Linked DNA regions of Homo sapiens. The protein of the gene in region 2 purifies or fractionates together with the protein of the main gene of each other region. This does not show direct contact. Each region holds a gene or a part of one and is shown on either strand. Other genes may lie near its edges. The genes, in order: DENND6A and RPS6KC1.

What was found.
Region 1: the proteins of RPS6KC1 (region 2) and DENND6A purify together in Homo sapiens (affinity purification with mass spectrometry; 2 studies listed by BioGRID and IntAct, with this or other methods). This does not show direct contact.

Annotation. Positions count from the first base shown.
Region 1 is NC_000003.12:57,630,315-57,634,238, forward strand, and holds part of DENND6A (protein DENND6A), read right to left. Parts: intron 3,041-3,924; coding exon 2,951-3,040; intron 665-2,950; coding exon 611-664; intron 511-610; coding exon 401-510; intron 210-400; coding exon 107-209; intron 1-106.
Region 2 is NC_000001.11:213,271,042-213,274,965, reverse strand, and holds the end of RPS6KC1 (ribosomal protein S6 kinase delta-1), read right to left. Parts: intron 2,443-3,924; coding exon 2,332-2,442; 3' UTR 192-2,331; downstream 1-191. UniProt on the Homo sapiens protein: May be involved in transmitting sphingosine-1 phosphate (SPP)-mediated signaling into the cell. Plays a role in the recruitment of PRDX3 to early endosomes.

The DNA.
Region 1 (3,924 bases), on a different chromosome or scaffold from region 2:
TACTATTTATAAAGAGTGGATAAAGGGTACAATCTTCAACTTCTAAGCATAATTATCTTTATTTTCAACAGTTGTTAATCATTACACAAACACACAGTTTTCGAACCTCTTCACAAAGAGCTTCTAGATGGAGTGCCTCCAATTTTTGGGTCATTTCCTTCCTCCGGGTCTTAAACCAGCCATCAAAATTTGGAGACTTTAGGAAATGCCTATAAAAATACATTTTAAAAAAGTAAAGTTTGATTATAACTTATTTCCTTTCCTCAATACCTTTCCTAGTCAGAGAACCATGTCAAACTTTAGTAGAATTTTTTAAAAAGAATAAGCTTAAGTTTAGCTTTTTGTTTTGCTTTTAAATAAAGCACGACACATGGGTGTAAAACAGGGAAAAAAGACTAACCGGTAAAGTCCAATCCAATCGCCTTTTATTCTAGAGGTTAGCTGAGGTCCTGTTTTCTCAAGTGTTTTCATAAATTCTTCTGGAAGAAACTGTCTTAATTGAGGTGGACTCTAGAAAACAGGACATATAATATTTAGAAATTAGGAGTGGATATGTTCACAGAAGTTAATTACAGTTAGAGGACCCAAATAGATTTGAATATATTCATACCTTCCATGGGGAAATACTTTTCTGCAAAGGCATCAAGCTTGCCACATATCTTTCCTAAAACCAAGAAAAAAGTTAATAAAAGGAGTGTCTTCAAAAATATTTAAACAGACCTACTTAAAAGGAATGGGTCTTTTAAGTTTTTAATCATATGCCCTTTCAATGGACAGCAACAACTCCATCACTCCCCACAAGAGATATAGCTAAATTTAGACTGACTTGGGAAGTCAGATTTCAAATAAAAATTCAACTAAATCTTAGATAAACCAAGGGGACTACATTTTTTCTTTTTTGAGACAGAGCCTTGTTCTGTTGCGCAGGCTGGAGTGCAATGGCATGATCTCGGCTCACTACAACCTCTGCCCCCCGGGTTCAAGCGATTCTCCCGCCTCAGTCTCCCAAGCAGCTGGGATTACAGGCGTGCGCCACCACGCCTGGCTAATTTTGTATTTTTAGTAGAGATGGGGTTTTACCATGTTGGTCAGGCTGGTCTCGAACTCCTGACCTCATGATCCACCTGCCTCAGCCTCCCAAAGTGCTGGGATTACAGGCGTGAACTACCGCGCCCAACAACGCGGTCCATTTTTTAACGATAATAGTTAACCTTACTGAGCAACTATAGGCCAGATAATGCACTCAACATTTTACATGCATGATCTCTTGTAATCCTTGGAATGATCCTATGTGGTAGGTATTATTAGGAAACTGAGGCTTCTTCAAAAGGCTAAATAACCTGACCAAGGTAATACAATTTAGACTTGAAATGAGGTCTACTTGACTTTGGTCTCTGCTCTCTTTTTTTTTTTTTTTTTTTTTTTTGAGACGGAGTCTCACTCTTTCGCCCAAGCTGGACTGCAGTGGCGCTATCCCGGCTCACTGCAAGCTCTGCCTCTTGGGTTCATGCCATTCTCCTGCCTCAGCCTCCCGAGTAGCTGGGATTACAGGCGCCCACCACCACGCCCGGCTAATTTTTTGTATTTTTAGTAGAGACGGGGTTTCACCGTGTTAGCCAGGATGGTCTTGATCTCCTGACCTCGTGATCCGCCCGCCTCGGCCTCCCAAAGTGCTGGGATTACAGGCGTGAGCCACCGCGCCCGGCCTTTTTTTTTTTTTTTTTGAGACGGAGTCTCACTCTTTCGCCCAGGCTGAGTGCAGTGGCGCGATCTCAGCTCACTGCAACCTCCGCCTCCCGGGTTCAAGTGATTCTCCTGCCTCAGCCTCTAGAGCAGCTGGGACTACAGGTGCGTGCCACCATGCCTGGCCAATTTTTTGTATTTTTAGTAGAGACGAGACGGGGTTTCACCGTGTTAGCCAGGATGGTCTCGATCTCCTGACCTCGTGATCTGCCCGCCTCAGTCTCCAAAAGTGCTGGGATTACAGACGTGAGCCACCACGCCCAGTCCATGCTCTTTTTTTTTTTAAGAGAGTCTTGCTGTTGCCCAGGATGGAGTGCAGTCGTGCAATCACAGCCTACTGTAGTCTCAAAGTCCTGGCCTTAAGCAATCCTCTTACCTTCGCCTCCCAAAGTGGCAGGCCTGAGCCACTGTGCCCAGCCTAGTCCATGCTCATAAGCACTACAGTAAAGTTTATTTATTCAAACAAATAGATTTAATGGAATAAATAACTTGACACCCAAAGACCAAGAAATAATATTTCTTTCTAAAATATAACAGCAAAGATCTCCAGGATGCCCTATATAATGTTCATAGATATATTACTTTATATTAATAACTGCAAAAAGTTTCTCTATGATGCAGTTTCCAGAGCAGGGCCACATCATGGTACTCCCTATACTTTAATATGACATCCTTCTGAATTTCTTACAATAACCACATTGTCTAGTCATTTATTCCATAAATATTTGAGTGCTACCATATGCCAGTCTGACGAATTAATAACAAGCAAGACAGATATAGTCCCTGTTATCATAGAGCTACAGCCTCATAGACATTATATCAAATTGTATTCAAGATAAGTATCAGAAAGAAGCTCTACTATAATCTTCTTTTAAGGTGAAAAATGTAGTAACTACATAACATTTCATATAAAGTATATCATTTAAGATTCACAACAGTCTTGAAAAGGTACTTAGGAAAGTGGAATCAGCCATATTTCACAGGTGAGAAAATTGAGGGTCAGAGAGAGGGAGTGACTTACCAAAGTTGAACAGTTAACACTAGAACAGATAATCCAGGTCTCTTGCAAAGGGGTTTATTTTTAATCACTAAATATACCAGGCTGGCAAAACACACAACTTAAGATATGGTTTTGGAGGGCGGGAAAAACATTTATATACCCTTCACCAAATCATTAAATTATGCAAAAATTTATTTATTAACTTACTAATGGAATGATGAAACTTTGTGTCAGTTCCAAAAAATAGCGTCGAAGAATAACACTTTGAGCCTCAGAAGGACGTTTCTGTTGTACACCCTTAAAAGAGGAAATAATGAGAATCTGTATTCTAGTGTTGGAATATAAAACAATGGATAACTATCAGATTCAATTGCTATGTAAATATACATTTATACTTGATATTTAAAAAACTAGAACTTCACCTTGAAGTAATTTAATGTGAAGTTCATTGTGCAATATCCTGTGAAAATAATCTTTACCGGAGCAAAACATAAGAGTTCTTAGCTTAGGGAATACTGTTCATCCCATACTGTGAAAATGTGAGTTCACGGCTGGGCACCGTGGCTCACGTCTGTAATCCCAACACTTTGGGAAGGTGAGGTGGGTGGATTACCTGAGGTCAGGGGCTCAGGACCAGCCTGGCCATCATGGTGAAACCCCGTCTCTACTAAAAAATACAAAAATTAGCTGGGTGTGGTGGCGGGCACCTGTAATCCCAGCTACTTGGAAGGCTGAGACAGAAGAATTGCTTGAACCTGGGGAGGTGGAGGCTGCAGTGAGCCGAGATTGTGCTATTGCACTCCAGCCTGGGCAACAAGAGCGAAACTCCATCTCAAAAAAAAAAAAGTGAGTTCACTATAAAGACAATCTTTATTTTATATTTGCTATACTATACTATTTACATTAAAAAAAATGGTAACAGTCCCCTACTGTTAGATGCTATCATGGTAGAATCTATGGCTTTTTCACTATAATTTCCAAGTTTCTAGAAAGACTGACACTCATGTGTAGCTACAGCCCCAAATTCATGCCCATACTGTTGCTAACTTAGTCTCCTGATTTTCATAAAACTTTGAATCAAAAAAGAGACCCTGGCAGGGCACGGTGGCTGACGCCTGTAATCCCAGGACTTTGGGAGACCGAGGTGGGCGTATCACTTAAGGCCAGGAGTTCGAGACCAG
Region 2 (3,924 bases):
TGGGGAGGAGTTATTGTTTAGTGGGTACAGAGTTTCCATTTGAGGTGCCGAAAAAGTCCTGGAGATGGATAGTGGTGATGTCGCACAAAAATGTACTTAATGCCACTACTGAAGTGTATATTTTAAAACGGATAAAATGGTGAATTTTATGTTATGTATATTTTACGATAAAAAAATCAAATGAGAAACACTCATGGCAACTTCTTTTATGATTTTGACCCCATATTCCACTCTTCTGCTTAAACAAACAAAATATAAAAAAAAAACAACCACAAAAATCAGTACCATTCACAGAAGTACAGCTTAAAATATGTACACACCATAAAATAAAAACAGACTCTGGTTCATCACCCCAAAGCTATTTATCCTGTGTTTATTACTAAAATAATTAATGTCCATTCTAATTATGAATGATGTATTTACATTAGGCACAAGCTCCAACCAAACATATAGAGAGAAAAGGGGAGAAACTGAAGCAATGGAATTGTGTCAACAGACTGACATGGCAACCATCTGTTGACATTAATGTCCTTTGAATCCAAGAGACTCAAATCATGTGGTAGGGCAGGGATCTTCACCTTAGTTGTGAAGTCCTACTTTCATGTCACAGGGCACTTCTGGAAGGAAGTTCTGTAATGGCCAGCTCTAAGTACTTGCAGATTTCCTACTAGTCCTACACAGGAAGTCATTCTTGTGTCTCACCTGCATAAGTTCCTGTTATGAGGCCAGGGGACTAGTGAGTTGAAATCTAGTTCCAGGGAGTGATGTCATTTTGACTGAACTATGATCCTGGTGACCTGCTCCCCAACCTGGTGTTGTTGCAGCCTTTCAGCTGGGGTTTGGATTATAAGGGGGCCAAAAAGGAAAAAGGGAAATAGAATAATAGAAAAAGGAAAAATGCTTGCACATTTCCTTTGTTTCACTAGAGCATTTTCTGTTCCATTTAATTTGATGAGAGGACCTGGTCGATGGCAGATGGAAGCTGTACAGATGCTCCTGGAGTGGGGTTGGGCTCTCACACAGATCTCAAAAATGCAAAGAAGATTAGAACATATCAAAAATTTCAATTATTTCTGGTGGTTTCTAACTTGGAAATAGTGACTTCTTCTTTGGCTAACGTTTAAAAAAAAACAGATGTTAACACTTTTAAAACATTTGTAAATTTTTGCAACAATGCATAACTACAGGAGCTACCTTAGCAACAAAAAGAAGTAACAAATACAAATGTTTGGAGATGTGTGAATACTTACATTCTTTCTAAATCACGTCAAATAGATTAGTTCAAATCTGAAAATCTCATCACCATAAGTAACAAACTAGGACTGCCATTCAATTCCATTTAGATGAGATCCTTTGCTTCTTAGTATACCAAGCCAAAAAGTAAAACAAAGTCAAGCATGAGAAGCAATGGTAGAAACTGATAATATTTCACAAGGAAAGGAACAGACGCATTTCTTCAAGGAAAAAAAGGGGGGAGGGTTATTAAATGAAGAAGAGATCTAATGTTTCACCATGTTTATTTGATATCATGATTTCTTAGTCCTTACACAAAGGGAAATAAGCACTCCCTTCCCTTTTTTGTTGCATGTGTGTTAGCAGGAGTCGGAAGAACAGAATATGAGGGAACAAGCAGAGGGTGCAGAAAATAGAAAGATGGGGAAAGAAAGATGCTGTTGAAGACACAGAGTGAGTGTTTATATGAACCCTTCTCTAAATAAGCAGTATCAACAAAGAGTACAAAGCTGACAACATGGAGTGTCTTCTTACAGAAATAATCTGGGACCACATTCAACATACATTATACAGCATCAGGGTACAGGTTTTCCGTCAGAAATTATGTGTATATTCTTTTTTCTCGCTTTTAAGTTTCATTGATGACATTGTTCATATACTTTTAGTGTATTATTAAGCAAATATTAATTTAATCATATAAACCAATCCTGGTCAGCAAAAAGCACTGTTAGCTGCCATGTAAAGGTCCTTCTGTCAAGTAAAACTTCATTCTACACTTCTAGCTTCCTATCAGAGGAACTTCTTGAAGGAACTCTTTCAGTTGGCTTTACAACTCATCTGCAACACCAAATGTGGATTAAATTCAGATCACACCTTGGTTGTGTATATATGTATATAACAGCCCCTGGCACAATTAGCTAATATCTTGTAATTGTAAACGAATTGTTCTCTTTTAGCCATTTCCCCCCCATTTCCTATAACGGTCTTTATCCAAATGCTTTGGTGCTCCATAAGTAACTGTGAGTCAGAGGTGCCTCAGTGCTGGAGATGCCTGTCACAGAGAAGATCAGAATGTGTGAAGATAACCCTGCATTACGTTCATCTCATCAGTTCTGCCCAATCCACAGGGGTAAAAAATGGATGAGATTTGATATCTTCAACACCAGCAACTCCAGCACCAAGTCGTTCCAGAGGATTGAACTGCAAGAGCTAAAAAAAGACGGACTTAGTGAGTAACAGGAATCCAACTGGCAAATCAAAGGAAAACCAATATTTGAAAAGAAACAACTTCTAAATTCAACCCTGGTAACAAGCAGTCTTGATTAATAGCCAAGTGACCATTTTTCTTGAAAGGGAGCTATGTCTAATACCATTCTAGCTGTGGGGTGTGAGAGACACCTGAACTGAGTTTATGGCTTTTCAACTGATGGGAAACATGGCCTTGAGTAACTTACTTTGTTTCCCTCATCCTCATGTAATATAATAGGATAGTTATACCTATCAATTTCCTACCCCAAAAGTACACCATGACATTAATTAGATATTGCACTAGATTCTGAGATAGCCAGTTACTTCCTTCATGATTAGAAAATTTGGGAAGCACAGTAAATCTTTCGACCCCTAATCAACTATGTATGTATTGAGACTAAACTTTACCTAAAGTGTGAATAAGCTGATTAGTATTCCAAAATCACTAGTCTTTGGCATAGTTGACACAAATGAAATAATTTAATATAATGAATGAAACAAGTTTTGGTTTCTTCAGAAATAGGAATCATGTGTAAAATAAGTAAAAAAAAATTTTGTGGTTTAATAATGTCAAATTTTTGTGTTAACAACTTTACTGAAGGATAATTTATATAAATTCATCCCTTATAAGTGTACAATTTGATGACTTTTAGTAAATTTAAAGAGTTGTGCAACTAGCATCACAATCCAGTTTTAGAACATTTTTTTTTTTTTTTTTTTTGAGACGGAGTTTCGCTCTGTCGCCCAGGCTGGAGTGCAGTGGCGCGATCTCGACTCACTGCAAGCTCCGCCTCCCGGGTTCACGTCATTCTCCTGCCTCAGCCTCCCGTGTAGCTGGGACTACAGGCGCGCGCCACCATGCCCGGCTAATTTTTGTATTTTTAGTAGAGACAGGGTTTCACCGTGTTAGCCAGGATGGTCTCGATCTCCTGACCTCGTGATCCGCCCGTCTCGGCCTCCCAAAGTGCTGGGATTACAGGCGTGAGCCACCGCACCCGGCCTTTTAGAACATTTTGATTACCCTAAAAAGTTTCCTCATGCCATCTACAGTTAATCCCCACCCCCATCCCCAGCCCTCGGCAACCACTGACCTGCCTTTTGTCTCTATAAAGTTGCCCTTTCTGAACATTTCATATAAGTAAAATAATAAAATATGTAGTCTTTTGACGCTGCCTTCTTTCACTTATCATTATGTTTCTGAGATTCATCCACACTGTAGCAGGTATCAACAGGCCATTCCTTTTTCTTAGTATTCCACTGTTTGGATGTCCACATTTCATTAATCCACTCACTAGTTTTTAGATACTTAGACTTTCCAGTTTGGGGCTATAATGAATAATGTTGCTATTAACGTTCATGTACATGTCTTTGTGTAGACATATATTTTCATTTTTCTTGATTACATTGCTAGAAGCAGAATTGCTGGGTCACATAATGAGCTTA